Regions from separate parts of the Homo sapiens genome. Here region 1 is linked to region 2. The links come from fine-mapping of genetic effects on gene expression. A gene starts in region 2. The other region holds a variant in brackets. All regions are shown on one strand. Distances are from middle to middle.

Region 1 (17,064 bases), 390 kb after region 2:
AATGAGGGTGATGCCCTCATGATGAGATTAATGCCATTGTAAAAAGGAGACACCAGAGAGCTTGGTGTCTCTCTTTTTCTCCACATGTACTCAATGAGGGAAGGCCACGTGAGGATACACAGAGAAGGCAGCCATCAGAAAGCGAAGAAAAAAGCCCTCATCAGACACTGATCAGGGACTTCTGGCCTTCAGAACTGTAAGAAAATAAATCTCTGTTGTTTAAGCCACAAACTCTATGGTGCTTTGTTATGACAGTGTTATAATTAAAAATAATGAGTTTAAATCTGAAATTCTCAAGTGTGTTCCCACTCTGGTATGACACAGTTATTTTCCTGTTGTGCCAAACAAGTGCTTTGCCCTAGTATTGCAGACTTTTCACTCCGTGAATGTTTTGGTTATTCTTTTCTATAAAAATAAGAAAATAAAAACTTTGAAAAGTTCACTGAATTAGGTAACAACTTTTACCAGATTTTATTTCTATTATTGTTTAGCTATCAAAACACAAGCTTTAAGAAATCTGGACACTTCATGAGCCAAGTCACATAAGCATAAACATTGACTGTTCATGTATATAGGTACCAACATACACATGAATCTAAAAATGTACTTTGAATTGATTCTGGAGCACTTTTTGAAGTTCAATAAATGCCTTAGAATCAGCTGGAAGTCCACAAATGGTAATAGTATTTAGCTCATTTCAATAGAAATTATCTCATTAACATGCCAGCTGCTAAAAATGTATGAGCCCAGCCATGTCCTTTGCCTGCCTCAAGGAAAGAAACCATGCTTGCACGGTTTTGGTTAAAAAAAAAAAATCCTTGTTTAAATTGTTAACAGTTGCTCCAGCGTGGCCCATGGCAAGAAATTTAACCTTCTCTCCCTCCCTCCTATATGAGCATTTCCATACCCTTCAGCTAGCTTTTATATTGTCAATGCAAAACAAATTTTCTGACTGCATGTTAAACTATTTAAACCAGCTTTAGCAATAGACACCCTCCTCGGTGTAGTGTCATAGTTTTAAACCTAAACCTCAGAACACAGAAGACCCAAGTCTTCTGTAAAATGATCAAAAGTCTTAAAAGTAATGAGCAATATGAGTGATAAGATCAAAATAGATATTCAGTAAAAGGATCACCTAGCATTAACTAAGCAACTCTTTTAGATTATCTGCTCTATAAATATTTAATTAAGTTAAATGGAAACTTTTCAAATAATTTTCTTTTCACAGTTATAAGGTTTCCTTTAAGGTAGATGTCTTAAGGGACAGGCTTTATTTCTGTATTTGGTCACTCAGAACACTGGGATGTTTTGAAAAATATCCTATAGAAGCTGCCTTGAATTAAAGCAATTTCAACAAATGTAGTTTATACCAGAATTATAATTAATAACAAATATTTCCTAAAATTGTGACCAAATGGAATATTGAGATCTGCATTATTATAACCTAAGTGAATTAAATTTTAAGTTTTTAGAACTGCTCATTCAGTACCAACATTGTTTATTTTGAGTCATTCTCTAAGCTCATATTACAAAAATATAAAATCTAAATTAGAGAGAACACAAAGTAAGAGAAAGAATATTTTAACTCTCATCTATTGATGGATATTAACAGAAGCAGAAGTGGGTACAGTTAAACATCCCACTGACAGAAAGAGGTGCTTTGTTTTTTTTAAGGAGCAGCACCTAACAGCGGAGAAACTATTAGAGAAAGAAAATGTTTATATCCTGGTTTTTCTGCTAACTGGCAATGTTACCTTGAGCAAAATACTTAACTTTTCTTCAAGTTCCTAACTTCTCTAATATGTATAGTAATGTCAGTGATGAGAATGCCATCAGATAGTTTATATAAAAAGCATTTGGAAAAGAAAAAAGCATAAGCTAGTATTACCAAAAGCAGAATAGATAAGTGCTTTGACAAATTCACTGTTTCACTCCAAAAATGTAATCACCACCTGATAATAATGCTGCTTTCAGATTTAGAAACTAGAGAAGAGCTGCATGTATTCCCACTCTGGTATGATGCAGTTATTTTCCTGTTGTGCCAAACAAGTGCTTTGCCCTAGTATTGCAGACTTTTCACTCTGTGAATGTTTTGGTTATTCTTTTCCATAAAAATAAGAAAATAAAAACTTTGAAAAGTTCACTGAATTAGGTAACAACTTTTACCAGATTTTATTTCTATTATTGTTTAGCTATCAAAACACAAGTTTTAAGAAATCTGGTTAACATTTCAAAATACCGTATAAAACTGCTTTTGCTTTTTCTTGGAAAAACCGACTGCGAGTACATCTGAAACCTTCTTGACAAGTTCTCTGAAAGCAATTAGTGGCTTTCTTTTCTTAGTTATAATGTGAGGTTTCACAGAAACTTTTCAAGTCTCCTGCTCCTGTCTTTTTTCTAATGCTTTAAATCCAAATGGCAAGTAGCCAGATTGCACAGAGCTATTGAATGCAGAAAACAGGAATCTCTTCACATCTACAAACCAGCTCTGCCACTTCTGCTCCAGGCACCAAGGAATAAAAAGAGAGAGAAACAGGAAATGTAGAAGAACGGGACCTTAGGTTAAGCTAAGACTCCTTGAGTACTGCACCAAAAGTAAGATCTATCAAAACAAAATTGAGAAATTGGACTTCATCAAAATTAAAAACCCCCTCTTTTAAAAATGCCATTAAGAGAGTGAAATGCCACAGATTAGGAAGACAAGATTTGCAAATCATATATTTGATAAAGGATGAACTTAAAGGATACATAAAGAAATCTCAAAACTCAATAAGAAAAAAATTTTAATGGGCAAAATATTTGAACAGACACCTCCCCCAAAGAATTCATGCTGACTGCAAATAAACAGATGAAAAGATGTTCAACATCATTAGTCATTAAGGAAATGAAAATTAAAACTGCATTGAGGTACCATGACACACCTATTAAGATGAATAAAATTTTAAAACTTACCATATCTAATGTCTATAAGAATGTGGAAGAACTAGAACCTTATACACTGCTGATGGAAATGTAAAACAGCGCAACCGCTTTGGAAAACAGGTAGACAGTTTCTTAAATAAATAAGAGTCAGCCATTTTACTCCTAGATATTTACCCAAGAGAAATAAAAGCAACTGTCCATGCAAAGTATTGTACTTGAATGTTCATAGCAGTTTTATTTGTAATAGTAAAAAAAAAATGGAAAAAATCCAAATACCATCAAAATGTGAATGAAAAAACAAATGGTCCTTTATCCATGTAACAGGCTACTGCTCTACAATACAAAAGAATGAACTGTTGGCACATAATCATATGGATGAATCTCAAAATAAGTGTAATAAGTTAAAGAAACTAGACAAAAAAGAAGACATTTTATATGATCCTAATTAGATAAAATTCTAGAAAATGCAAAGTAATCTATAGGAACAAAAAGCAGCTGAGTGGTTGCCTGGGAAAAGGGAAAGAGAGTGAGAAAGATGGGGTGTAACAGGAAGAAAGGATTACAACAAGGCATAAGAAAACCTTTGGGAGTGATGAATATGTTAATTATCTTACTTGTGATATTTCATGGATAGATACATAACCTTATCAATTTTACACTTTACATATATGCAGTATAATGTATGTCACTTATATTTCAATAAAGTTGTACTTTAAAAAGGAAAGAAAAGGAAAACTCTCTCCAAAGACAATGTTAGGGTACCATATAAGAAGAAATAAACCAAGTTGTCTGCTCTTGACACACACTGAATTTCCTTTTCCTTCTCATATTATCTGCAAATTTATGAACTATCAATGAAACTATGTAGTCTTCATCAATAATATACATGCAAAAGGCAGCAAAACAATTAGCCACTCTTCTCCCTACTTGCCCAGAGAATAACAATGTCTAATGAGCAGCAAAGCATACAGATTTGATTTCCAATGTTTCCCTTCTCTGGGAGCATGGGCAGGTAAAATATGCTTAGACCTTAGAAAATGCTTGTTTAGTAGGCTTGACTAGGGGACAGATGCACAATCTTTTTTTTTTTTTCTTTTTGCCACCAACTTCTGCACCAGTTATCTATTGTCTTGAAGCCTGGATGGCTGTGTCCATGAAGCAGATGGATCAGTTCTATCCTATTTCTAGTTATGATACTCACTGATAAAATAAACATTTCCTCCTTGCTGAGCATTCTTGTTCACATGTGTTCATTTGGCATTGTACCTGCTTACAAGATGTTCTAGCAACATTGGTGCCAAGTCATAACAGTTTCACTCCAGGAGCCTAGGAGTCTTCAAGATATTATATAAGTCTGCCCCTGATCCCTCCCCAATGATGATGATGATAATAAAGCTTTAGACTCCCTGTAATAAATTTTTGATATTTTCAGATAAGTTCAGCTTAAGCTATTTTAATGAAGATATCAGTTTTGACACCCTCAGTGTACAGTGAAGACCAACTCATTCCCATTTCTGTTTCTCCCCTACCGAAGGTGCCAATGGCTTTAATTAAAAGGAAGGGGCTGCTTGCCAACTGGAGCTGCCTCATGTGCTCTATGAAGCTGCCCACCATAGCTGGTGGGCCAGAGACCCAGGCTCTATCCTGGAGTTTGACTTTTGGCTCCTGCCAGAATTCACACCACCTGAAAAGCAGCAGAAGAGAGCCAAGATGTCTGCAGCATGTGGAGCTATTTTCTTGGCACAAGTGCAGTTCAGTTTATACCAGATAATGTTGTCTATATAGAGCATTTCTGCATACATAAATAGGCAGTTCATACAGCCTTGTTAGACACAGTAATAGAGTTTGTACTGAAAATTGACCCAGAGCTGAATTCTGCCAGTTATCCCACGATTAATTCACTGTACTGGCAGAGAAAACACAGCCCTAGCTGTACCCTTGGCTTCAGATTGAGAATCAGCGTACCAGGAGCTCTACCAGTATGGTCCATCTAGTCAATAGAAAGTGAATCTGGAGGTTTTGAATACCTTTCAGACATTCCTAACGTACATTAAATGGGAATACAGCACAGTACAAGCAATGATTCTTCCTAAAATACCATACCCTGCAGAGCTGTGGGTGCTTTTTTGTCACCCTTAAGAGGTTTAGAATATGTAACCAACCCACGTTTCCTGCATCCTTTGGGTTTCCAGTATACAAATACACTCCAAAGACCACAGTGCCAACAATGGGCAAATTCCCTAGGATTCCGACCAGCCAAAGGATTTGGAAACAACCGATTTGTCTTTAGAAGTATCATGAGTATAGTGCTAATCAAAAACTGAGTTTTGGTTTCCTATACTTCTTCCCTTTCCAACACTGTTAGTGTGAGCTTGCTAAATGTTTCTCCTCAGCCTGAAGGTAAAGGGATTCTTAGAAACTTCCCAGACCAATTTAACATGTCTCCAAGCCAAATTTTAGAAACAAAGTCGCATTTTCATATTTAAAAAAACCACCCAGTTCCTATTTACTTGAATTACTGCTGATTTTAGACTAAATTGAAATATTGGATATTTGGTTACTCTGTCTCCTATGATCTTTTTTTTTTTTTTTTTTTTTTTTTTTTTTTGAGACGGAGTCTCGCTCTGTCGCCCAGGCCGGACTGCGGACTGCAGTGGCGCAATCTCGGCTCACTGCAAGCTCCGCTTCCCGGGTTCACGCCATTCTCCTGCCTCAGCCTCCCGAGTAGCTGGGACTACAGGCACCCGCCACTGCGCCCGGCTAATTTTTTGTATTTTTAGTAGAGACGGGGTTTCACCTTGTTAGCCAGGATGGTCTCGATCTCCTGACCTCATGATCCACCCGCCTCGGCCTCCCAAAGTGCTGGGATTACAGGCGTGAGCCACCGCCTATGATCTTTTAAAATTACATATTTGCCAAGGTGAAAGTTCTCAAGTTTTTTTTTTTAATATTTGGTGCGCATACTGAGAAAATACCAGTTACTACGCTATTACTATGAGGTGCAAGATTAAAACTCTGATTATTTTCCACTTGTTAAGGAACTGGAAATTTTCCTTGTTGACAGAAACAATTTTTGAAAGTGAAAACCAAGCAAAAGTTGATACATTTTACAGAGTATGTCTCCAAGCAGCTCGCATAAGAGTAGTAAAGTCATGTAGTTACAGTCGTGTTCCTTCTTATTCAGGCATTTCCTAATATATCAAAACAGCTGCTTACTTAGTGAAAAGGTCCACGCTGGCATAGTCTAAGTGTTCATTCTGACTGTTCTTGGAAAGAAGTGAGGCTGATATAGGCTAGTAGTTGGTGTGTGCAACACAGGTGCTTCTGCTATTCAGTTATCAAGTATTTTTAACCTCATCCCAGATTATAAACTGTAATTGGTAATAAATTGGTAGCACTTTTTTCCTCCACCATAGTGCCATGTTATACACAGCCACCTTAGAGGATGCTTGTCATGGGCTAGATTGTGAAGGGGAGAAAAAGACAACATCCTCCCTTGAAAACAGGAACATGACAAGGATATAAGTTGATTCACTGTGGTATTATTACTTTGCCCTGTTTCTTAATTTTTTGCCTCTTTCACCTTTGAGACCTTGAGGCTTTCATTGCATTTCTTCATCACAATATAAGAAAGTCACAATCGAGGCTGGTAATAATAACAGCTACCATGAGCTGAACACCTGCGGTGTCAGGTCCTGCATTAGCATTTTGCCCATAAGTCCATACAATCCATAATCTTCACAACAGTCTTCCAAGATAAGTATTATTACCCCTATTTTATGTACAAGGAAACTTCCGTTCAGAGAGGGCAAATTATTTACCAACAGACATACAGAACTAAGTGGCAGAGTGGAGCTTCAAACCCATGAGTTTCTTCCTCCAAAGCCAGTGTTGGTTCTATTACACATTATGGTGTTCCTTCCAGAAAAGTTATAAGGGCCATTGAGCTCTCCTTGAGAGTCAGCGTGTTCACTCCATTTCTGCCACAGCTTGCATTATGAAGCAACCAGCCATTCTCCACCATTGAGGGTGAATCTTAATTATTTTCACATGGTTGTGTTTGCTACTATAACAATAATACCCCCATGCATGGCTAATCAAGAAGTGGCTTGTTTCTTACCAGAAAAAAATGGCTCTGGAATTCAGGATCTAGTGAATTCTTATAATTTTATATTGCCTCCGTATTCATTTTAAGTATAAGTTGGACTTTCTTATACAGAAACAGGGCATAGTCACTCTTGACAGTTTCCAATTCTCTGCCTCCTACCAGTTCCTCAATGTGATTGATCCAGATGTTTGCCTTGTGCAACAACAACTTCCTGGTGACCCTTTCCACATGGGACAGCTAGGTCCAACCTACTTGACTGTCCCCACAGACCTCCCACTCTGTTCAGATATGTCACACTGACCACTTCTCAGTCATAGCATGACGTCCTGGAACACGTGCCTGCTTGCTTTAAACCCACCAATTAGAACTTGCCCTGGGAAACCTGTTTGGGTAACACCCTGAACCCCAATAAAGGCTTTGGTCCTCTGGTCCCTCCTCTCTCTCTTGCTCCCCACCTGCTAGTTGAGCATGTGTGTCCCAGACCCCACTGGTCCTGCAAGACGTATTGCCCTCTTTTCTCTAAGATTGGTAAGTAGTAAAAATTTCTTCTGTTATTTTACGTGTTTGTTGTGCTGCCACCTCTGTCTCACCTGACTAATACATCTGAACCGAACTCTCCTTCTGATCAGTGCTGTTCTGGAAGGTGGCTGTCTTGGTAGGGATAAACTGGGCACAGATTAGAGAAGAACCACAGTGCATCCGATGGCATAAACAAGTTTCCCAGGAGAGGGACGCCTGGTCACAGGTCAGATACTTAGGTGTTAGGCCATCCGCCAGGATAAAGAAGAATCCTGTGAAAGCCATATTGTAAACATCAACTATGGTCACTCCTGGAACCCCATCAGGGCAAGGCTAGAGCTTATAGCCACTCTCCAGAGGAGACCTCAAGACTGAATTAAAAGTAAATACAAGAGAGAATATAGTCTGGAACAGGCCAGATATAGTTGGAAGAGAAAGACAGTTGGATGAAGATAAAGGGGCTAATTTTTAAAGTTACTATTACAATGATGGAGACATTTCTCAGGCAATCCTAGAGTTTGTTTTGCTTAAATAAAGTGACGATATAAATTTCTTAGTAAGTCAGGAAAAAAACCTTCTGGATTTAGGACAGGGAGACGGATTCAGGACAGGGATACTTCAGCAAAAACTGTTGTAGCTGAATTCTCTGTTCTCTATCAATTCTATCTATTGTCTTCAGATTGATTTATAGCTAATATAGTAATATAATTTTTGTCATACTCAGAAGTGTTATTTTTCAAACTTGAAAAAATTATTCTTCCCTTCTAAAAGAAAATAATAATCATGGAAGCTCCTTTTCATATTAAATAAAAACTTCTTATGCTTAGAGATAAACAACATTGATAATAAAATAGATGTAGTCAAAACTATGAATATAATAAAGTTATCAACTTAATTTAACATAATGTTATTTTACTAAAACCAAAGTGTTGGTTATAAATAGTAGATATTATTACAGCTTCAAGTCTGATTCTATATATAAATTTTCTGAATTCAGTGATCTAATGCAGAAAAATGCCTTTTTAACTTAAGTACATATATTTAATAACTTTAAGATTCCTTTGCTACTTCAGGATAGTCAGACCTTAGATTCAATCAAAACTCAATAACAATGTATTTTCACAAGCTGATGTACACTCAATAACTATATAAAAATTTTTACTTAATTTAATTGAAGATTAGTAATATGGTATGCAAGTTAAGACTGATTTGGTAATTGATATCAAAATACCAGTTATTTAAATGTCTTTAGTTTTTTTTCTTTTAATATTCTTATCATAAAAGAAATCTTGAAATAGCCCATAACTGATACAAGGAACCCATGATATCATCAAGAATTCTGGCTGCTATAATTCTGCTCCATTGTTATAAATCCCATCTTCTACTTAAAAATATATTGGTTATTTAATTGGGTTCTTTGTAAGAAATTTACAGCACCAATATTTGAGGATAAACTCCATTCATTGGGGCAAACAGATCACAGGTAGCCCTGGAGCTGACAGCTCGCTTTGATTTTTGGTAAAGTTTGTGAGTCCACAGCTCTCTGATCAGCCTTGCACTGCTCTATAGTCTTGTATTTCTCATTTTCTTGGTCAAAAATCTCACCTTCCTAGTGTCTGTGTTTCCACAGCTGCTTTTTCTTGAAGTATACATCAGTGAGATGTTTTGGGATTTTCACACTGCTGATATCAATTTTTGTGGAAGTGCCAATGACAAATTTTTGGTGTGTTCTTCATAGAGGAACTAGATTGAGGACCAGTATTCCAGTCACAAGTTGCAAGCCATTGCCCAGCTGCTTCAGAAAAACCACCTGCTTGCCTCTGTGGCATTCAGTGAGGATGATCAGAATGGTCCCAGGAAAGATGCTAGCCTATAGTTTTCTCACATGCCGATTGAAGGGTTTCTTGCTGTGGCTCAACGGCTTTGAAGGCACATCTTCAATAGGATCATAGCTACACATTATGCAAAGTTTAACCACCGGGTTACCACCATTCTTGTCACCATCAACTGGTTTTGTAACAGTTGCAAGAATCTTTCAATTCTGTATTTAGCAGTTGAGTACTTCTTGTTCATGGCCTTTTGGGAATACATGGCAGACCAAAAATATCTGCCAATTCCTGTGATGAGAACAGGACCTTGGCTGCAGTGGGCCTTCCTCTTCTTGGACTTTTTAGCCTGAAGGTTAGCCTTTTTAATGTTACCACTGGCATCAGCCTTCTTGGCATCAGGTTTTTCCTCCTTAGTATCCAGCTTATCAACTTTTTCGTCTGCCATCTTGCAAGATGGAAAAGAAAGCTGTCTTTCACTTTTGTTTCATAGCCCATGAAGCTCATGCTGGAGTTCCAAACATCATATCCACAGTCACGGCAAAAGAGGGAGTAAATATAAAGGGATAAAAAAAAATCTTCCCTACTGACTTGGTTCCCTTTAAACAATCTTCCCATAATTTCAACAAAATATTTCCACTTACATTATATTTTCCAAAACTTAGTCACATAGTGATACCTAGTTGCAAAGAAAGAAGGGTAATGTCGTTTGTTTGTACATTTTTAATTTCTAGGCCACAATGTGCCAGGTTTGTTACTAAGGCAAGACAGGAAAATGGATACTGAAGTAGGAACTATCAATCTCGGTCATATGTTTTATTTTTTAAGTCTGCATTATAAAAATCTAATGCATCTGTTAATATAATCAATA[GC/G]ACATTCACTGCTAATAAACTATTGCCATTTGGTCCATACAAGAATGACACACATTGGATATGCCTACTTACAATGTGGAAACCTCTACAGTGCAGGTTCCTTTGACTTCTACTTGCCTTAACTGTTATATGCAAAGTGGTGATTCAAGTCTACAATTATTTTTCTCTGCTAAAACTCTAGCAAAACTTTTATTGATACAGCACATGACAGTTGTCAGTTTTTAATATCACCTCCCAGCATCCTGAGGGATCATAATTATCTGATTTTTTATAAAGAAAGAATCAGAGTTTTATAGAGATCAGATAACTCGCCCAAAGTCATGTAACTAAATCCAGAGCTGGACCCCACTACAGATGCTGTGCTCCCACAGGGCTCCTCATAATGATCCAGAAATCTGTGCAAACCACCTTTGACACAGAGTTATTTCTTCAGATCTAGGAATCTAAAACACACTGCATAGCCACGTAACCCTATACAAATTTCCCAGTGGCTGAAAATAATCTGTTTTCCTTGGCACCTCAATTTCAAGGCATCACGTAGATACTAGGTAGAGTAAGTGCTACACTACCAATAATACCACTACTATAATAACAGTGGAGATATATTACTTTACTCTTCCATTACACTGTTGATGATAAACACACAAGTTTTAGTAATTATTATAGAAAAAAAGCACATCAATGTGGTTAATAACATTAATTCTGGACCCACACCGGCTGCTTTTGAATTGCAATTCCAAGCTTACTGGCTGTGTTGTCTTTGTTCAGCTAATCAATTCCTCTGTGCCTCAGTTTCCTAATTTGTAAAATGTAGACAGTCATAGTATTTATAATCCAGGGTTGTTAAAGTATAAATGGGTTAACAATTAGTATTTACCATAGTGCCTAATGCATAGTAATACTATAGTGTTTGCAATCATTAAGGAAAATAATGTGTTACTACAGTTATTAAAATCATTCTATGGAGGTGCATAAGGGAAAGATTATCATAAATAAAATACTTTAATGTGAGGGTCCTAAGGAAGGAAGAATTCAGAGAAACATACATACTAAAACACATTTGACAATCATGTAGAGGCTAAATCAAATAATATCTTAATATCTTAGATTCGTTACTTATTTTGGATAGACTTTGTCCTGAGCTAGTGATACAGAAAAGGATATTTGGATATTTTGTAGCCAATAATTGTAGACTTTAAAATAAGGTATCTTTGTTGTTATTCAGACTGCCAGGTTCACATTAGAAATAACAACTGGCTATCTGAGAAAAGTAGGAAATTAGCCTTTCGTTCGGGTGGGAAGGGAACATTCAAGCACTTGAGAAAGGTGAGAACTGTCAATGTAAAGCAACACTGACAACCAAAGATTAACGAGAGGACTAAAGTGGGATTTTTATGAGCATTTTCATAAAATTTTCATTTTCATAAAATTCATTTCATTCATTTCATAAAATTTTCCTTTTCATAAAAATTTTATTTTCTGATTAACCTTCTGTTATCCTTCTGCATTAGGACTTCTCTTACCTCCCCTGATTTTATTTTTCAATTTGATGTCATATGTATCATATTTATAACACATCGTAAATAAACAACTAAACAAATGTGTTTAGAATGTCTCCTCATTCTGTTCATCAGAGGCAGTTAAGGACAGCCCTAGTCTTAATTTTATAAAACAAAGTAAAATATTCATGGAAAAATAATTACTAGAAGAAAACAATGTATTTCTGAGTGTTGTTATAAAAGGGTTTTATTTTCACACCAGTGAACTCAGTCATGTGGCTTCTGAGAAGGAAACACCAGAGTTCACTTCCTCCCCTCCTCAAAAGAAAAAATAATGGGTTCAAAACTTTAGAACCAAAGGCAAGAAATCCCAGAGAAAATAAACCAGTTATGCATGAAGAACCCTAATACAGTTTTGCGTATTTTAAGACTGGACCTATAAACTTGCTTTAAATCTTGTTCTTCATGTGGTTAAACTATGTCCCACAAAGTTCAGAAGCGAACTTCAACTCCTTTTCCTCTTCTTCATGTGCTGGCCAAACCCTCAAACACACCACATCAGACATGCAAACAGGTGGATGTGATTCCCTGAACAGAGTAATTGATAGAGTTTAACAAGGAAGTCTTCCTTTCCTCTTAACGTGTACAAGTATGTGTTACTAAAAGGAGCCATGGCTCTCAGGCAGGATAAGACACAGATGGTAAATCTTGGAAGACGAAGAAATTGAAGAAATAGGTCCAAAGCAACATAATACAATAGCTGTGAGTCCCAAGCCCTTGTGCTGTCTTAAGCTGTACAAGGGAATCTCTGTGTCCTCCCTAACTTAGGATCCCAACAGCCTCTCAATCTTGGCATATGTGGAGACATCTGAGACCACATTATGTCCTGGTGTGGTTCATACAATTATCCACACTCTTCCCTTTATAGGCTCCTTCTTGTTTCCATCTGACCAATTTCTAATGCAGTATTACCCATACTGGAGGGCAGGAAATAGCATGAAGAACCAGTAGAACTCTATTAACGGTGGTCAAAGTTTTGATAGTGAAGAATGAGAATTAGAAAACAATCTCTTCTGTCCACAGGTTCTGTGGCCCTAATTAATACATATAATGGAGAAATGGATCCCACTTGAGTCCCAGAGCTATTAAAAATAATTCTAAATTATAATTTTTGGACCTAAACTTTTCCAAGCAGTTATTTTATTTGGTAAATCCATTCTTTCTCCAGGACTTTATGTAATACCTTTGAGTAGGCTGTCTTAATGCACATATGCAAGACCACTCACATTTGTGATAAAATGTTGCTTGTATTTATTATAACATCCATCCATTCCAGGAAAAGAAAAAAAGCAAAGTAAAAGTTGGAATTTACAAATTATTTTGTGCTTTTTTTTAATTGGACAAGTTCTAAGATTTTAAAAGAGTGAACAAGGTTTTGCTGCAAGTAATGCATTTATCCAATCTCACCACAAAATGTAGAGCACATAGTGTCCAGGTATGACAGGACTGAAAAAAAAGAAAGAAGCTACAACTGCACATTTTAGAATTGACTCCAACTTAATCTAAAGTATTTCTGAAGCCTTGGTCATTTAAAAACAAATGGTGTCCTTGATTCAGGACTCGATTTTTTAAAAATCTATACTACGTGAGCCCTTGGAGTATATAGATTAGTTGCCCTTTCTTTATAATATGAAACTACTGTTTTCTATTCTATTCTATTCTATTCTATTCTATTCTATTCTATTCTATTCTATTCTATTCTATTCTATTCCTCAGAGGTTAACAACCACACTGTCACATATGGTTGCCTCTCCACCTATTCCTATACAGGGTTAAGTACCTACTGATTTCTGACTGGGGTTTGGGTTTTTTTTTAAGATCAAGTGTATTTAATCTGAGAGGTCAGAGTGTGGCAATACAGCTACAGCCTGGGCATTCCCAGCAGGAGGAAGGTAACATCAACACATTTTGTCTACAGAGCCAAGCATGAAGAAAAACTACAATTAGCCTTTGCTGCTTTTCTGCAGATCCTTCATTTGCATTTTAAATTACATTTTGGTGTATTCATTTTCATCTTTCTTTTGGCTTTTAAAGCTTGAACAGAGACTCCTGACAAAAACACTGCCTAAGATTGGCATTTATTAGGGGAAAAAAAACACATCCACATGATTTTTTTTTCTAAAATCTTCCTTTGAGATTAGTTATTTCAGAAAGTCACGTTGACAGGCAGATGGAGAGAGAGATGCAAGATGGTTTCAGAGATTCTAGGAATCTCAACGCCTGGATTTTCATTTTAACATTTCAGTTTCTTACTAGTCAGTAAGTTTCTCTGGCTGACTATATTAAAATGTGTACTACTGTAATATATATTAAACTTGCTCTCCTGGTACATACTGACAATTACACAGTTTATCACACCAATAAGTTTATTGAAACAGAATCAAAATTTTTTGTCTCTTAAATCCTTGTAGAGATGCTCTTTCTACAAATATGTTAGGCTCTCTCTGTTATCTCTCCTCTTGAGTAGCCTAAATACTATTGATTGGTGATAGCCTTCTCCCTAAGTGGTCACTGGGTGTTAAAATGTAAAGCAAAACAAAAATTCACATAAATCAGATTGTGAGTTTATTCTTCCTTCTTTGAAAGGGGTCAGTGCCTCCTATATTAAATGATTAACACACTTAACAGTCTCATGGACTCTTTGTCCCATAACTTTATGGATGGCTAAACCCCAAAACACCTTACTTTTAATATTGTTATTAAAGGACAGATGTTAAAAGAAAAAAAAAAACTAAAGATTGAGCCATGTGCCAAGGGAGAATAGAAAAATAGTACAACCAAACTGTCAGTTTTCTAAAGGAGATATTAACATGAAAATGTACTGTTATGATTGACTCAAGTGGACTTAAAGTTTGATGTTGTTGGATATTTTTAATTCTCTACATCTTATTGGTATATCTTATTAGAACATGTCTGAGCAGATTCTAGTCAATATTTCTCCAGCTCTCAATGGTTTTTTGCAATAGTTTCTTGTGGTGCAATAATAATAAAACTTGTTTAGGTTTGAAGCACTTTTACATGCATGCATTGAAAAATATTGAATATAAATAGCACTGAATATAAATAGCCCTATAAATAGCATTTGTGAAAAACACAGAAAAGACCCTGGTCTCAAAAAGTTTACTTTGCATTTGCAAAAGGGTTAGTAGGAAATAAATAAAGGAACAAAATCATTTCAGGGAATTATAAGTGCTATGAAAAATAAAGTACACTGAGGAAGTAGAACGATGTAGGCATGGTGAGGCTAATTCAGATGGAGTGATCAGAAAGTCCCATTGATACTTAACACTTCAGCTCCATGACAAGGACACAAGTATGAAAAGGTCTGGGGTCCGAATTTGGGTAAAGACTATGACACGTGTCAAGGTGGTGGCACAGGAATAAGCTTGACGTGTTCAGAGAAGCCACAGCAGCTCAGGGGCAGCAAGCAAAGGGGAAAATGGAAGGGGATGAACTCCAAGATAGGGGAAAGAATTACACTTTTATGGCATGAGAGGCTATGGGGCTATCCATTTCTGTGACATATCTCCAAACTTAGTGGCTTAAAACAAACATCTTATTTTGCTCACAATTTGGAGTTCAGCGATATGGGAAAGTTCTTCTGGACATTTATCTCTGATGCGGGTAGTATTACTGGGGCAGCTAAAGCTGCAAAACTAGGTGATTTCATTCAATGTCTGTTCCCTTGGTGCTCTTTGTTCACATGGCATCTCCTATTCTAGGGCCTCTCCACATGGCGTGCTCTTCTCACAAGTTGGCATCATGGCGGTCTCGTGGCTGTCTCTAACTACTGTTAGACTTATGTGATGACTGGTTTCCCCCAGAGCAGGCCTTGATCCAAGCTCCACGCCTTCTTATGACCTCTCCTGGAAGTCTCAGAACATCACTCCTGCCACTTTGCCCTTTTTGGTTAATCATACAAGGCATTAAGGCCAGCCCACATTCAAAGGGAAGAAAGTCAGACACTTCTCTTTTCTATGGGAATGTCACAGAATCTGTGGCCATCTTGAACCTGCCTCAGAGGCCATGGTAGGTAATCTGCATTTTATTCTGAGTGTTATGGGAAATGGCTGGAGACTTTTCAACAGAGAAATTACATGATTTTATTTTTGTTTTTAAGAGCCCATTTTGGCTGCTAGATAGAGAATAAATTGAATGAGGACAAGAGAAGAAGCAAGGTAACCAGTTAGAGGTGATTATAGTTTTCTGGATGGCCTACGATGGAATGGTAGCAGTGGAGAAGGAGAAAGTAAATATGGGGTACATCTTAACGGACTTGTAGTTGGATAGGTTTGGGGGAGAAGAAAAAAAACAGGATGACTCCAAAGGTTTTAATGAGGACCTGGAAGGATTGTGGTAGTATTTACTGAGACAGGAAAAAAGGGGTAAAGTTATTTACATGTCTCATATAATTGTCCCAACAGCTCTCTAACATGGAGGTTCAGTTAGTTATGTGGTAGGCCTTATTATCCTCAATCTTTCCTCAGGTGAGAACAGTGGGGTTCTTAAAGAACAGAAGGAAAAGAAGGAAGGGAGAGGGAAGGAGAGTGGTGAGATGGGGAGAGGGAATAAAGAAAGTCTTTCCTAAAACACTTAACTAGATAATGGGAGTACTGGTCTATAATAAGTTCTGTTATCTAGCCAACACATCTTCCCATTATACAACATAGTTAGCTGTCAATCATTAGTATAACAAGCTGAGTTTTAAATTGTTTGTCTATTCTTACTATAAACCTACTCAAAGAATGTTTCCCTCTGGGTAAAATAGGAACAATGAAGATGAACACAAGGAAAAGATACGTTCTTAGTCATTACAGAACTTAAACAGTAGAATGACTAAACCTTTCAAGGTTCCCAACATTTAGATCTAATTGATTTGGATTTTATGTCTGATAAACATCACCTTCTAAAGATGAAATTTTAAATTGAGAAAAGTGAATAGAGGGGGTTGGAAGTTCTAGTTCTTATTTTTTCTGCCTTTGGCTTAATTAAGTTTATCAAATTTTCTTAAACTCTGTGCTTTAATTTTTCTCATCATCAAAACATTACTTTTATCAACCATATTTTCAATTCCTTCACTTGTTTATGAGTCAGCCCTCATAAGGACAGTTGTACTTGTCTCCCACCCATTCTCATGCCTGTGATCACTCCTTTCACACCCATTAACTCATCTTACACATGTAATAAGAAAAGTGCTGGGGAGAAAGTTTTTGTAAACTTCAAAAAAACAACTTATCATTGTTATTACAAATTCTTCA
Region 2 (17,064 bases):
AGACACAAAACATTTGCATTTTATCCATAGATTTTTTTGTCACCAAACCTCAGAAATGTATATGTTCAATTATTGAATTATTTTATTAACTAAAAGCTCTTAGTTTGAGTGACACACCTATTTTACATCTGGTCTACAAGTTAATTTCCTCAGGAGGCAGGTGCCACCTTCCTGTACTCATTACAGATGGTGCTTTGTCCAGAGTTTTACAATTGCCATTTATGGTTGGGGCTCTTAGAACTTAACAGCGTAAACAATATGTCCCTCCTCCCCTATTACACTCTTCTGAAGTAAGCTATCAAGTTAGAGACAGTATTTGAATTTTTTTCTGCCAACCCCCTTAGAAACTCAACCTAACTTGTGGAAAAATTACTGTTGGCCTGTACATTCGGCAGATAGATTTTTAAGAGATAAAAGAAAGTAAAGAAAAAAAATGGAACCATCCTTCTTCCTGACTTTCCAGTCTCTCAATGTCTTCACTATAACCTGCTCTCTCTAGTTTCTTCTCCAGCTCAAGGAAAGTCTCAGTGGTGGCAGTGTGAAACTTACTGCAAAGAGAGCCAAGAGTGGGGGAAGGGAAACCTCCTGAGGCACTGCTTACTAATGTAATTCCATAAATCAACTAATGGTAGAGAAACCAGATCTGTGTGGTCTCTAATGCTGTCCCACAGAGATCAATCATGTCACCTGAACAATGTTCAGAGACTAAGAGGCTGGGGTTGCCCATGGGACAATTTTATCCCTTGAGCCATATCAGATTGGGATATTTTTAAAAGTTAGAAGTCAGTATCAGAAATGTTACTGTTGTGAATATAAAAACTGAAGGATTATCTTTGCAAGAGACAAAGTGTTATCATGTAACTTATCATAAGGATCTCCTATATGATCACGTTTATTAAAACATCAAGGAACTTAATATTTTTCATTTAGGATAGAAATTTTTAAAACAGTTTTTGTCACACAAGGGGCAGAGAGCATTTGTAATGACTGCTTTGAACAATTAGTGGCTATTTTTTTAACAGAGTAATTGACTTAATGAACAGTGGTTATGCAAATACACAGTGCACAGTATAACAGAAAAACTAAATGTTTTGTGTGCATTATCATATCAAATATGATCAAGGGGTGATTTTATAAACACATTTCTAGGGCATCATAAGATGCTCTTAAGGTGAGACTAAGCAGAAAAATAGAAGGCAGTTTTAAAAGGAACACTAGGGAGGAGGCTTTGAAAAAAATCTGGATGAGAGTCCCAACATATCCATGTGAGTCTGTCTTAATTTCAGTTTTCTCACCCTGAAAAAAAATCTGACTATGTCTCCAGTCTTTGGGATGAGAACAAGTCAAAGGGAAGAGTGGCACATGAGTCTTGAAGTGATAAAGAAGAATATATGTTATTATTATGATCCAGATGTTAATTGGCACCCATAATTCAAAGCCAACAAATATTAGCTATGGAGTTTACATCTGGAACCCACAGGTGATATCCACAATGAGTCCCCAAATCACTGCCCTCAGCCAGGAACCCATCCAATCTCTAAAACATTTTCCCAGATGAGGATGGACCAAATTTAAGAGAGAAACCAGGTCAGCAGGGGGACTTTTCACCTTCCTGCAATTCCTCTTCCAGCTTTGGTTCAGTCATGTAAGCCCTGTCACTCTGACATGTGCTCAGCTGGTTTCCTACAACCATAACTGTGTATTTGCACATAGGTCTAAGGCAGTCATGATGGCATTGTCTTTTTTAATGATCTAGATAGGATCTTATACAATTTTGAAAAAAAGCTTTTTATTTCTTTTAGCCAAATAGTATTCCGCTAATAATCTTAGCCTTGAAACACAGCCCATGCTCTGATAGAAGGGATCTGAAGTTAGAAGATCAGCTTGAGAGTTCAAAGGAAAAAATCAGCTTCTTATTCTACCCATACCCCACCTTGTGAAGAGTAACAGAATTTTTGTGCATGAGAATTTTTTAAAAAGAAGAAAATGTAGTTTTATGGGATTTTGTCATCAAAATGCCTGAGGAATTTAAATATCACAACAAGCTTGTAGGAAAAGCATCAAATTAAAAAATTACACCAGCATAGAAACTTGTGCAGAAAACCTATTGGTACTCATATCAAACCCCTGCAGGGTAATTATTTACTAAATAAATCAGAATTATTCAGTTACTACATATCTTAAATTGGGATGCAAGTAGTGCCACGAGTCTAGCTAAAGATGAGGCCTAACAGCAGAACCAAATTTATAATTCTAGATACTACATTTCAAGAGGAAAAATAAAAGCCATGTTGTCCTTATCAGCTGGGAATAGAGAATTTCAGTATGAACTGAATTTTAATTTCCCATAGTCCTTAGAAGTTACAATAAATTAATCCGGCAAAGAAGATTCAAAAGCTATTTTTTGCCACCTAAGAAAATACATGGACCTGCATTATAGTTGCTATTATATTTGCACAAAGAAAGTTGCCAAAGAAAATGTAATAAACCATCCAGGAGTAAAGTTAAACTTTCCAAAAAGAGCTGATTTATCTTATAAAGAAGAATAAATGCAATATTTTGATGAAACTGATCATACCCAATAATGACATCAACATAATTCTGATATTTTTAGAATCCTAGAGGGCTATCTCATTTGATTTACACAATTAAAGGTTAAAAAAAAAACTGTATCTTCTTTGTGTTCAAACCTGTACCAAAGATCTTTAACCCTTCTCTTTATTCTTTTAAAGACTGCTTCCCAGTTCATAAAGCAAACTCCTCTAAGCAGTACTCACAATTTTTAAAAGAATGTACAGATAACCCTAAGATAACTTGTGAGAGCCACTCTCATCCTGCAACTCACTCCACAGAATATTAAAATGTTAAAGCACAGAATGCTAAACCCACCACCTACAGTCTCATGTATATATGAACATCTAATTATCTACCCTGTAAATTTTATCGAGACTAACTATAAGTACTTGTCCAGATTTCTTTGTTTAATATACCACCAAAGTCATTTACCTGTGATTTTTCATTTTTCCCCATTTTTGTTTTGATCAGGACACAATACAAAATTTTTATCAAAGGTATCAATCTCTGTATTTAGCATAATTCATAACCTAATTTAACAATTACTTTAGTGAGCATCTGTACAATATCTGTTTTAAAGACCTATAGGTAAAAGAAACTATTATTGACCATATAAGGTATCAACCAAAACTGTGCTTGGTGTATACACCAACTTTGTAACCACAAAATGGTTACTTTGTCCAATGCAGAGCCCAGGGGAAATACTTTTTTTGTAACTGAGTTTTAGAAATTATTCATTCTAAAACCACATAAAATAATTTTTAAACAAAATCACTCTTATCTGCCCTGAAATTAACTAATTGTATCCCTTTATTCTAAGTCACATCTCCTCAAAATTTGCAGGTAGAAATCCGCTTCCTACACAGTTTCAGCTTTCTCCAAAAATATCAGATACGCAGAAAATAAAATAGAAAACATTCTGCCTTGATGAGTAGAAAAATGATTCTAGAAAAGGGTAGGAAATCCCCTTCTGAATCCAGGTGTTTCAACTTCATTGAATACTGCTGTGTGGTTTGTTACCGGTTTTTTAATGAGAACAGGCTTGTGTACCACAAACTGTGTCCTCACTGTTATAAATGGGCCACTAACTTAGCCAGTAAACTTGTATAGGATGTGATGTGTCCAGTCCTTTGGGCAAGATGCCCCACCCTTTTTAATGAGGAGGAGGGGGCATTTTAAACCACCAAGGGAAAATATTGAGCATATTGAATGTGAAACTTCTGATTCTTCAATTACATTATTTTTCCCCCAGGGATAAAAAGGAGGGCACTCTCTCTATCAGAAGGGCGGTGTCACGTGAAGTGCAGCTGGTGCGGGTGGTGGAGAGGCCAAGCCTTTCGCAAACCACCTACAACTCTTACCACCTGAATGAAGCTTCTGAGAAGGGGTACTGCATCTTGAAGCCAGACAAGAATCCCTGAAGGGGAGAGGGAGTGAGGAGGGAAGGGGGGAGACTGGGAAACAAGAAATCATCTCCTCTGACCTCTAGTGAAGTGCCAGGTTTTTTCTTTAGCTCTTCACATTTTCTAAATTTGCAGATCTGGTGTCCCGTTTTGCGGTTCCTGCAACTGCTGCAGACGCCACAGTTGATGAGCCTCTTGCAGGGCACGCAGACCCCACACCTTTTCCTCTTCTTCTTGGCTGGGTTGGCTCCGCCAGCTCCCCCTGAGGAGGACGAGGAGGAGGAGGAATGATTCTGCGGGCAGTCTGCCAGATTGGCAATTTGAAACGCACTGTCTGTGACGGCTGCTGAGGCTGCTGCGGGGGAGTGAAGGGCTGTCATGACGATGACCCCTGGAGGTAATGAGATGCCCCCTAAAGCCGGGATAGCGGAAAAAGTCCCCACGCGCTCGGGGAGATTCATTATCTCTGCTTCAGCAGCGCCGCATTTGAGCTTGTTCATGCATTCCCCCGCCAAAGGTCTGCAGTGTTCAGGGGATAAGGTGGAGAGGAAATTAGTATTTGCCATTTGCAACGACGGCTCTGGCGGGCAGCCAGCTTTCCCCAGCCTCTGGGAGTCGTTTCGGTGGTGCATGCTGGTCCTGCTGCCGCCGCCGCCGCCGCCGCCGCCACCGCCGGCGGGGAGGATCGCCGAGGAGGAGGAGGCGGAGGAGGAGGCGGCGGCGGAGGAGGATTTCCTGCCGCCCCCACCACCCCCGCCCCCGCCTCCGCCGCCGCCGCCGCCGCCGCCACCCCCCCCGCCGCCGCCCCCGCCCCCGCCGCTGCCCCAGAGCATGGCGGTGGCGGCGGCGGCGGTGGCCGCGTTGTCGCAGTTCCAGGGGGACATGCCGATGCGCGCGGCGGCCGCGGCGGCGGCGGCGCTGCTGGGGAAGATGGGGGTGGTGATGCGCGCGATCTTGGCCGCCTGTGGGAAGGCGCCCCCGTTGGTCTTGTAGAAGGAGGTGGCAAAGGAGCGGTAGCGCTCCATTTCCGAGTTGTAATCCACAAGGCTGTTCAGAGCCCCCTCGGGCAAGTGGCTTTCCTTGGGCAAGCCCGGGGCCTCCGGGCTCGGCCCGGGCTCCACGCAGACATTGGTGTTCATGGTGCAGGGGGGGAAGAAGGGGTGCAGGGTGGAAGTGGGGACCGCCTGGTCCGACACCTGGGTGGAAAAGGGGGAAAGGTGGGGGGGAGGGAAGGGAGTGATGGTGGTGTTGGGGTGGGGGCCGAGGCGGGTGGGGAAAGTGGGTTCGGGTGGGGAGAGCAAGGTGAGGGCTGCTTTATTCCTCTCTGGGGCTCATTTCCACAGACGGTGAATTCCCAGGCAGCGTCTTCCTTTGCATTATCCTCCAACTGTTACAACTAAAATAAAGAAAGTCATTCCAACGAGCTGCACGAGGAAAAAGATTAAAAATAAACAACCTCCCTCACTAACCCACCGCAGACACCGAAAGCTCCCACATTCTTCCATCAGGTCGTTTGCATAAGAATCATCAAGACGTGACCCCCCCCAGCCCATCCCCCCCAACTCTCCCAACCCCCGCTCCCTCCCTCCCCACAGCAAACCACAGCTCCTCCCCCCTATTCTTATAACCCTCCTGAGAAAATGTATTAATAGCCAGGATACCCAGGGAAAGAAGGAAGACGGGGGTGACAAACGCCTAAGGAAAAGGGCAATTGGAGTGCTAAAGACATGCAAATCATGGGTGGGAGGGCGATACTACCTATAAGCAGAGGGCATTTAAACATTATGAAATGTGTGAACAAGTGCTGCCTGGGCATGCAAATGCTGTAAAGTAGAAAACAGCAATGGCCCTATGAGGAAAATGAACAGGAAATTAGCAAATGAAGTACTGAAAAAGTCTACAATACATCCGAGTATAAACTGTAAGCAAACACAATACAACTGAGAGCTAAGAGACTGCCCACATACAATCTGAACTAAAGAGGCAGGGAAAAAAGAACTACCAGCTGCCACAGTATCCTTCTGTGTCTGCGGTCATTAGTTTGAATCCCAGCACAGCTGGCTCTGTTAGGGTCTTAATTCAATGGACCAAGGACAGGTCTCAATTGTACAAGCCATTTGGTGGTGGGTCTTGGTGGGGGTAAGAGGGTGGTGTTCTACTTGATTTTTTTTAAGGTAGAAAATAAAGATAAGCCAGATAATTACATATATACATATTTATTTATATCAGCAATGTCTCAGGTTTTAAACCAAGTGCCTGCAGCCTCTATAAGAATATTCCTAATCATTCCTAATGGAGATTGCTGTCTCTTCCGAAGACAAGAGGAAAGCATGGGACTTTTTGAAAAGGATATCTCACAATCACTGATTTTTACATTGAGTAAAAGGGGGGGGGGCTTTAACGTGTTCTTTGCCAGAGAAAAATAACAAAATTATTTTTTAATTTTGCTCTTTTTAAGAGGAAAGTTTAATGTTAACTGGGTATTTGCATTAATCTCCTTGCTTACAGGCCATTATTATGCTTTAGGAAGAGGTATTTTAGTTGTTTATTACAGAGGGAGAAGTACATCACAGCCTTTTAAGAAGCAAAGCAAAGGCATAAAGTGTATATTCACTTAAAAAACCAGTTTCTTTGTTTCCAGATTTTTTGGCCAGAATATCTTTTTGTGACATCTTTTGAAGCCCATAGATTGGTCTAGAATGCAGAGTTCAGGGAATTCTACATGGGGGCCCAATAGTCTCCGTCTCAAATATTCAGAGTTCAAAATGGTTATCAATTATAGTAATTATGCTTATAATTAGGTTAATGAACCAGTTATGCCCAAACTCCAAGTGCAAAAACTTCAAGACCTACTGATGAGGTGCTCTAAAAAGAGGGGTTTATGTAAACAAATCCCTATTAGGCAAAGTAAATCAAGATAAGGAACCTCACCCCAGGCTGGATTAGAAGCTTGCAGGCATCTTTCAATCACAGCAAGTCCCTAATCACTCAGGAACCACCTCTGTGGTTTCGCATTAGGGAAAACTGCTGCCTTCTCAGGTCTGAGGGCAATACAAAAGGTGCCCCCAAAATGCTCTTGGCTAAATATTCTTGATGCTTGGAAGGGGTGAGGGAAGACACAGCAAGAATATGCATATAGCTTCAGTTTCTGCGAATCACATTGTAACTGCAAGACCATAATAACTGCTACTCAGTAAAAACTAGTTATGTCAACCATGCATTAGATATCATCACATTGAGTGGAGGGAAAATTTTCAACCTTTTAGTCTTTTGACCTTGTTCCAAATAAATAAATAATTTAACGTCCCTTTTTTAGAGTCTTAGAGTGGTGTTTCCAAACACAAGCTTTCCTTGCTTTTCTGATTGCCATCACCATCCCTCTTCCTACCTCAAGGTTTAATACCACCAGAAACTGTAGAAAATGATTATGCCCAGTATCCAGGTCATTATTGTTTAATCAATGCATCTCTGGAGCATGAAAAAGGTATCTAAGCCACAGCTATTGTTTGGATTTTATTTAAAAACAAAATAAAACACACACAAATAACTATAGTTCTATGCCAAAGCTAAATTAGAGATCCATACTTCATGATCCTGTTTTGCCTTTAAACAATGTGACTTTACATGCCTAATACTGTATGTCTGGTCTACCAGAGACATAGAGATCAAAGGTCATATTTAACATTCAGGAGGAGGGGCGGGTGCAGACTAATTAATAAATTAATACAGCGACGCTTTTTCTTGCTGGAGTCCAGCATTAATAATCTACTTTCACAATCCCAACGGACAGCAAACATTTAAGAGAAAAAAAAGCCAGAGAAAGAGAAAGAACAATCACTTACCAGTCTCTTTTTATTTGGGGAGCCTTAGAATTTGCAGACGCTGCCAGTCTGCCTTTAATTAGTTGCACATCACCCCCTAACACAAAGAAACACAAATCCAGATGTGTCTTGGCAGCTCCCAATTACAACTTTAATACTTGTAAACAAACTGTTGGGGGGGGGGGGGTAAATAAATATGCGGATCAAAAAAAATACCTGTAAATGGCTTTTTTTTCTTGTTGCAGAGAGAAGGAGGAGGAGATGGTGTTAGTGGTGGGGGTGGAAGGAGGAGGAGGTGGGGGGAGAGGAAAGAGTCGAGTGTGAGTGTATGTGTGAGAGCGCGGGTCTGTTGTCGGTGGTCTCTCCTCTCCCAGCGCGTTGCTCTCCGTCCGTCTCCAGTCGCTGTGTGCGAGGGAGGGAGGGAGCCGGGGAGTCTCTCCTCTCTCTCTCCCCTCTCTCTCTCTCTCTCTCTTCCCCTCTCTCTCACCCTCCCCCCTTCTCTCTCTGTTTGTGTGTGTGCGAGTGTGCGGTTGCTGGGGGAGGGGAGCCACAGAGAAAGGCGAGGGAGGAGGTGTGGAGGCTGGGGGCGGGGGCGCGGGGGTGGGGGTGATTGGCGCCGAGGTGAGGAGGACGCAGGGACGTGGACACCTACTGATGATTGGCTGCAAATTACACGGGGAACAAGAGGCGCACGCGGGCCAGCGCTCCTTTTCACAAATCCTCTCCTCGGCAGAGGAGCCACGTTTTCCCTGCTCGCCTGCGGATCGCCCTCCCTCCTCGCGCCCGGCTCTCCGGCTCAGCCCAGCACACAGGGCTGTTGATTATTTTCTTTTGCTCTCGGAGATAATTGTTTGGAAGGGTTGGAAAGAGGGCGTTTCCGCCACTCTGCGTGTGGGGTGTGTGTGTGCGTGCGTGTGCGGGTGTGTGTGTAAATAAACTTGTCTGGGATTTCTGGCTGGGTTGAGAAGAGCAATACAAGAAACAGAGAAAAGGTCATGTTTGTTTGAAGAATGCTCTTAGTTCGTACCCAATGGCATGGTTTTAAATAAATTTCCTGGTGTACCCAGGAAGACTTTAAAAAAAAATACCATTTAGATCTTTAAAGTAAGGGAAAACGGACCGGTGTGGTTCTTCAGACCCTCGAAGTACTATTATGCCAGAATGTAAAAAATCGGTGATATGATGCTTGGCCAATTTCAAAATCCATCTCAATCTCTGTCTCTCTTCTCTACTCTTCTCTCTCTCCTCCCAAAATCCTCTTTTACTATTCCATCTGGTAGTTCCAAAGAATAAATCAGATTTTTAACTCACTGCCCTATTTTTTAATTTCAAACTTTACTTAAACAAAAACTTTTGTCTTTCAGTCTATTTTAGAATAGTATGTAATTAACATTTCACTTCTTGCCACTTGGGAAAACATAGTTTATGAATTGAAACATAAATATTGTACGGCACGTCAAATATAAATAAAACTCGTTCATAAATGCAGCTGTAAATTAACCTCTTCACTGCTGCCTCAAATAAAATATTTGTGGACACATGCTATCCTACTATTAAAGTATACTCTAGTGGAAATAGTTATAAGATACAGAATTATGAATACTTTTGAATAATTTTTTTTCTAAGAGCAAAACAGTGGCTAAGGTAAGTTATAGAGTAGGAAAGAAAAAACTTAAGATTATTTAAATTGGTGTTATCAAGCAGAGTACAAGTTTTGTATTAAAATTAAGTGTTTATTCTAGAGTAATGCAATATTAATTGTTCAGATAAGTGAGGAAAATATAATGTTTTGTTTCTTTAATAAGAAAAAAAAGCTGAAAAGACATTTTAAACCATTTTGTATTTGAATTTTCAAAAGATAGACTTTGACCATATCAAGACATTACCAACTATGGAGGATAAATTGTTGATAACAAGTTTGAAACTGTGGTGTGTGTATGCCTAAATGAAGGTGTTATTTCAAGAGTGGGCTACTATTGCAATAGGAAACAGGTGTATTTTGTGACTCATTGATTAATATACATGTTTTGTAATTTTTTTAAAGCATAAGCTGTTTGATTATTACCGGTTATTTGACATCTATAGACAAAATAACTGGAGGGTTAATAATTATTCAAGTTAATAAGATATTTTTATTCTTGTGCTAATGCATTATAAAAGCAAAAAAGGAAATTTTCCATTTGATTATTTTGTTTTAGCTCAGCTTCATAGGAAATTTATCAGGAAAATGTGGTCACTTTTTAATGAGTGAAAACATGCTAGAAAAATGATAGATTCTTAAACATCTTTTCACAATATTTAAAATATCAGTCCAATGTTAGAAATTTTGAAGTTTATAAATAAGCAATGTTTTTAATCAAATAAAGACATCATGCTTTCTTTTGCCAAATTTTCTTTTCTGGAAATTTTCCTTTTTGGAAATTCCTTTTCTCATGCTTTCCTTTTTGGGACTCTTCAAGCTTACTTTCAAAATGAAATCTTAAACACGTGAGAGAAAATATGTTCTAAATTCCAATGAATTTTACTTTCCAGCTAATGAAGGAAAACTACAGAATTCTTGGTCTTAATAATTAATAATAATAGCCCCTATTAATGACCCATTAGTGTCAGATCCTGCACTAAGTAATTTGCAGATATTCTATTTTGTCCTTGCAATAATCCTGTGAAGTGGCTATTATTTCCATTTTACAAACAAGGAAATTGAGGCCCAGAGAAATGAGGTAACCTAGATTAGGTCACAAAGTTAGTATGTAAAAAGTTTGAAATTTGTACCCAATCTGGTCTATTCCAAAGCCTTATGTTTATAACCTCTACCCTAGTCTCACTGTCAATAATTAATCAATCAATAAACCTTCTCTGGATACTGGAACCTCAGATTTAATTATGATTGTAGGCCCCTAGTTGATATGGGATCAATTAAATTTATAAAAGAAATTATAAACAATATACCTCATGGCTCTGATATAGCATTCTGTTTCCTTTCCACTAGGGAATTGATTGCATACTTAGCCAAATATGATCAAGGGAAATCTTTTTTCTCATCTATCTCATATCCATTAATTTTTTATACTAGTGTAGATACATATATGCACCATGTCTCACATTAGTCTATGTTTGTCTTCTTTAAAATGATATATCAGGGTTTTGATAATAATACCTGAGAACACTCAGTTCTCTGTTAACTCTCTTTAAGTCCACAGTTTTATATGATATACGAAAAAGTGAGATTGTTTTCTCTGCAAAATGCCCATTACAGCTTCCAATTACCTGGAAGTGGTTTGTGCCTTTACCCTGCTTTATGATTTTTTAAAATCTTAGCTAGGAGAGAGTTCAAAGGTTTCATAGCTATCCTGATGGGACTTTTTTTTTAATCCCAACTTGAGCATCACCCAAAAAAAGTATCCCCACTCAGCATAAATTTTATGTACTGCTCTCAAATATCTTTAAAGTACTGCTACTTTCCAACATAATCATGATCATCATTGTTATCCAGAATCTCCAAAAAGGTAGCATATTCTGTTGAAATAAATAGACCTCAAAATTTACCAATGCAAAATCCACAGAAGTATGTGTTTTCTCATGTAACAGTCCAGGGTGGGAATTTCAGATCAGAGACCATTCTTCTCTATGAGTGATCCATAGATTAAGATTCCTTTTATCTTGGGACATTTTATCTCCAAAGGACTGCTCAACTACATCAAGCTGGCAGAAGGGCATGAAGGAGCTATGATGGCTTGTTAAAAGTCTTGGTCTTAAAGTGGAACATAGCACTGTAGCTCACATGCAATTGTCAAAAACTTGTTACATGCCACACCTAGCTGCAAAGATTACTGGGAAGCCAACTCCAAGATGCAGCTTTATTACTATGGGGTAGAGAAACAATTCTGAGGGACAGCTAGCTATCTTCCACGCAGAGTAACACAGAAGGAGAATAATCTGATGAAGTGATTAAGTAGACCACACAGCCCTGAATCTAACCTTGAAATTCCTCTGCTCCCTGGAAGTTATTTTGCTGATTACCACTGAAAACAGTCTTAATGACTTTAGGGAAAGTTTGGCAACTGTGAAAGAACTAAGCTTTCTTAAATACTTGTAGGATAGCCAAGACAAGGTTAGAAGATTTGAACAAGAATTTACTGAAGAATAAAGAAAGCAGAAGTAATACAATCAGAGAAAATAGCATAAATAAAAAATAAACTAACCGAGATAAATCTTGGGGACCTGCAGCTTGTCTGCTGGTGTTTTCAAACCAAGAGGTAATTTTTAACCTCGCACAAATGAGATGTTTCCTATTAGTCATAAGAAAATATACAACATGGAGGTCAGAAAAGGTGTGTGGAGCTTTCTTACCTAATATCCAAGGACTCACATCTCAACTTACATTCATGGGCTCTGAGGACCACCTCTTTTGCCATAGTAATTCACTGTGGATATAGTAAATAACCACATCCTTTATAGAAGGAATATTCCCTTAAAACAAATAGGGAATAATTTCTTTAACTCTTTTGACTGGCCAAAAATCTACCTAGGATTTTTATTTACCTGGCTCCTTTCCCAGAATTTGAGTTGGTTGACATTGGGAATTGTGTCTTATACAGCTTTGTGTCCCACCTCATACCTACTATGCCTACTACATGGCAGGTTCCAAACATTCTGAGTCATGCATATTGAAATAATGTAGTATACACAAAATGTATGGAAGTAAATTCCCCATTGCCTATAGGATAAAAGTGCAAAATTTATAAAATTAATTTTATGAAGCCCTTCTCCAACTGGTTCCATCTTTTGAATCTACTCTACTAGTATTCCTTCCAAGAACCCACTATTCTAGCAGATCCACTTAGCTCAGAAAACTTCATTTGCCTTATGACCAGAGAGGGAGAAAATCTTTAATAATGAACTGTGAGCCAAAATGAAGTACTATTATTTCCATAAAAGAAATCTTTGCATATAAAAAATTATTATAGCATAATGAAATAATATTTTTAAATCCCTTAATTTAACGTTTTCAGAAGTTGTCTTGGTGACTTAACAATTGGGATTTGATGAAGCTACTTCTTAAAATCAATATTCTGCACACCTGTTGTTTTCTTTCACTTCTAATTAAATATTGATACGTTGTTATCACAATGCTGACCTTCATATTCAAAGCTGGTACTTTTAACCTACCAACACAGTAGGTCACATGCTTTGAGCTGTTTTTCCAGCTATCTTTACTCTCTTACCTTGTCTTTCTAATGACTAACAGGAGGCACTTATGGAATGGCTGGCCACTGTTAAGGACAAAAACTGTGACAATTGAGGATAATGAAAATAATGGGTTCACAGGGTTAAACCCATTACGTTGGCCTCATTAACACCATATTCAAATCAACTAAGCTAATCAAGCTTATCACATTCACATATTTTCATATACAGTTTGGACACTAGACAAATATGTACCAAGTATTATTTTGGGCATTAATTTTTAGAATTGTTCTTTGCAAGACCAAATTTGGTCTAGCCCCATTTTAATTTACTCATGATATTTTTTCTCATCATATAAATTCTCATTTCTATAAAACTACAGCTCTAACACTCCATGGAAAGTGCTATTCCCAAACACAGAAATCCAAACTTTCTCTGGTAGGCTAGAAAGGGAAAACTCCAGAAGAATGTTTTTTCTTCTATAGGCTCACTGACATAGCTTGATTTTTATTAGCTATTGTTTTCCTTGTACTTTCCCAAAAATATTTGGTATCCTTTGTTCATTGGATTATTAGAAAATACAAACAATAACATTCCAGATTTTGTCAAAGTATTTACTCATGAAGGAAACAATGGGTCACTTTTGCTACAAAACACCAAGTGATGGTAAATAGCTTCCAGGCACTAACAAATCTAAACTCAGATTTGTAACATGGGCCCCAAGCTGTTCTTTGGGGTCTCCCTTTTCCTTTGCCTGGCAGAATCAAAGCATTCCATGCTGGCCTTTGTCCCAGGAAAATTCTCCTTAATCATGCAACTACCTGTGTGCCTTCTGGAAAGATAAATCTCTTCAGATAGATAAGTAATGGTAAAGTAATATAAAGTGAGGAAATCCTGTGGTGAAATTTGTAGTTAAGAGCTAACCAGGAAACACTTTGTCCACAGTGCTCAGTGTGCCAGTAGTCCGTGTTCCCCTGACAGCAGTCCAGAATGTGGCGGTGTCACTTCCTTCTGCTGTCGGCCATTCTCTTCTGCACACAAGTCTTCTTAGACAGAATTTATAGGACACTGGAAATCAAGTAACATAGTCCCCTATCTCAATTCTTCGAATTCTCTATCAAAACTCCAAACTCAGTAACTTAGGAAACCAATGTTCTATTAATACTTCGCTCAACAGGAAGAAGTGGACCTTTTATTTAAAACAAGCTTACATGCAGACACTGGACATTTTATTAAGAGGCCTCTGAATCTTCAAATTGCTAGACAGGACTTACCCAGTTAGAAAAAAAAATCTTCAATTTTTAATAATAGAGTTACTTCAAGAATGTACCTTGTAAAGACATAAAATTAGGTTTATAAAAGTCATATTGTTAAGCTCTGTGAAACTCCAAAATTAAATCTGTCTTAAACCATTTCCTATTATATAATATCACCATTTTTGAATTTGCCATTTTTAAGTAGAATAAAGAAATTTTTACAAAATGGTTGTGAACACAAAAATTATATTTTTTTCCCTGGAGATTTTAGACTTCCAGTGTAACCTAGATATCTCCATTTGCAAAAGTTCAGGTTTCTTAATATTAGTCTCAATATTTTATTTGAAATCAAAGCCACTCTTCATGCTTGTTTTTTTTTAAGTGTGTTTCCATTTAGTTTATCTTCAATTAACTCCCTTTTTAAAAAAGGAATTCTATTTTTCTTTGTTGAGAGGAAGAATTCAAGATAATATCCCTGAGTTGTTAACGTTCAGTCCAGAAAGGTTTTTTTCCTTCCCAGTGCTGACCTTTGTTATGCCGTAGTTATAGCAACAAGAAGAGTTCCTTCTGTCTGTCTGTTGTGTTCTCTTTCCAAACTAATGACAGTCTTTTATATGCTGTTGTGCAGTATGGGGAATGCTTTACGTGCATTGATTTCTTGATTTACTGATGCATTTAGCTAAACCAGCAATTTGAATGGAAATTTTTTAAATAAATGCAATTAATTGAAATGGAATTTGCACATTATATATGTTATTTATGGAATACAGATCATTCATTTAGGCATTTTTCTAGATTGTCTTTGAGCTTCCCTGACCAACTTGCAGTTTAACTTCTCAGTGATGAAGTTTATTTATCCTATCATTATATCTTCTTAGTCGAAACAGAAAGAAAGCAAAAAGAGAGAGAGAGCCCCTTCTAGGGGAGTAACATGATGTAAGAACACTTAGTTTTTCTGCCAACCTGGGTCATACAATCATTATGACCTTGGGCATTCTACCTCTCATTTTACCGATCTGGAATATCACTTTAATTACAGTAATTACCTATCTCACAGGGTTTGTGAGGTTTAATTAATGTTAGCAAAGTGTTGTAGCTATTTAGTAGAGCAGTACTATAAAAAGCAAACTACCTGAAAATCACAACTATGTTCTCCCCACATAGTACTTAATTTTACACAATCCTTTTCTTTTTCCTTCAGAGTTAATTTAACATTTATTGCTTTTTTTTTTCTGTTCACTCCATATCTACATCTATGGTCTTTGCTACTTGAGACTTACTTTGGATGTAAAACATAGCCTCTGTCCCACTTTTGTTAGATTGCACGATCACCTCCAGGAGCTCAACATTTCTGAATCTAACTGGATTGGGATTAACAGTAGTATCTGAGCAAGTAGCTGTGGCTACACACTTCCTTTAAGTCCAGTTATAAACTGCCAGTTAACAATATGAGTTTGGTTCTCAAATACCTTTTGTTTGGAACCATGGTGTTAAACAAACTCAATTAGACTTCCAGTTTTTTTCATAAGTTGGAAGTTCTGAAAGTATTGTGTCTACATTCCATCCTGGAAATAGTAGCTGTAGCTATTATTAGTGATGGAGTCTCCAGTTTGCCGGCACTTTTAGCATTCCCTGCTGTCTGACACTTGCCCACCTAAGCATTGGAATTTGTAACTCAAGGCATCTAAGTACGCTTGTGCTAGCTGTTCACTGCACAACAATGCCTGGCCAAATGGGCAAGTAGGAGCTGGAATCCAGCCCATTGCTTTGCTTGCCAAGCCATGTTCTGGTGGGTCTAATTAGCAAAAAGGCATTCTAGGGGCTAGAAATGGCCTTATCAGTATCCCCATTATAGGCCAATTAAGTAAAGCAATGAACATTGCAGCCACCTTTATTCATATTAAAAAGTTAGCATCTCATCTTTGAAATTATATCCCACAAGATTATATTTAGATTAATATTAAAATCATATTCAATTTTATCTTTATCCCTTTTTTGTGAACCAATTTCACCTAAAACATATTCCAATATGAACTAATTTTCAAATAGGATGTAAATAATATGAAATTTTCAATTGTATGAACTCATTACCACTGAATCAGGAGTTATGTTTCATTGAATATCAACAAAATGACTAGTAATGTGAGTTGGATCGTCGTAATAACATTGTATTTCTTTCTTTGGGAACAACTACTCTTTAAAAAGAGGGAGACACTGTTCAGACCCCAGTTCTTTCTGTTATCTGCTAACATTTTATAATGGTAGCACTGCTTGAAAGAGCAGTTGTTTTTACCAATTTGTAACTTGGCTCTTTTAAAATGCATGATGATACGATGGCATTTCCTTTAAAATGTTTCTATTTTAAAACATATCCTATTCCTGTAATTCTTGGCTACTTTGTATTAGTGAAAAAGAAACAACTCTGTTACCTAATGGGAACACTGATTGATTTACATACCTTTCTTTAGCAAGTATCAAGAGTCCAAAATTTGAAGAATGTCCAACAAAAGCTAGCCTCTAGATATTTTACTGCATGCTAATCTCCTTGCAGAGGAAATCCAGACAGGTATATTCATTTGTTATAGAAAACAAAATAACTTTATTCTTTAATAAAGAATAGATAGAAAGAAGGTTTTGAGAATTCTGAGTACATGTAAGAGAAAATTACTCAAACTGGCTTAAATGATGAGGTCTCTTGTAGGGCAGACTCCAGGCAAGGAACAACCTGTGTGGCTTATAGATATCACACATAATATAGGCTTCTTCCATCTCTTTGCTCATCATTCCTATTATCTTATTTTTTCCTTCAAGCAGTTCCCTCAC

Direction of the effects. Positions count from the first base shown, and alleles are read on the strand shown. Sizes are in standard deviations (SD) of each study's normalised expression.
In carriers of allele GC in region 1, the expression in cerebellar hemisphere of the gene that starts at base 8,208 in region 2 tends to be lower than with G alone (moderate effect, 0.55 SD a copy in GTEx).

The links. PIP is the estimated chance that this variant, and not a neighbour inherited with it, causes the effect.
Region 1: its variant is the best candidate, but not a certain one, in a credible set for the expression of CXXC4 in cerebellar hemisphere (GTEx, PIP 0.52).

The regions. Positions count from the first base shown.
Region 1 is chr4:104,877,133-104,894,196 of GRCh38, forward strand. It overlaps LOC105377351 (a long non-coding RNA gene), which reads left to right and starts at 15,767. Exons shown (of 2, transcript XR_007058213.1): 1 at 15,767-15,835. It also overlaps the pseudogene RPL6P14. RefSeq lists an enhancer at 2,449-2,498. The variant GC/G (reference allele first, on the strand shown) is at 10,247.
Region 2 is chr4:104,486,687-104,503,750 of GRCh38, forward strand. It overlaps CXXC4 (CXXC finger protein 4), which reads right to left and starts at 8,208. Exons shown (of 3, transcript NM_025212.4): 1 at 8,015-8,208; 2 at 4,058-5,373. The coding sequence starts at 5,116. It overlaps CXXC4-AS1 (CXXC4 antisense RNA 1), which reads left to right and starts at 4,279. Exons shown (of 10, transcript NR_125926.1): 1 at 4,279-4,374. RefSeq lists enhancers at 1,454-1,643, 5,646-5,695.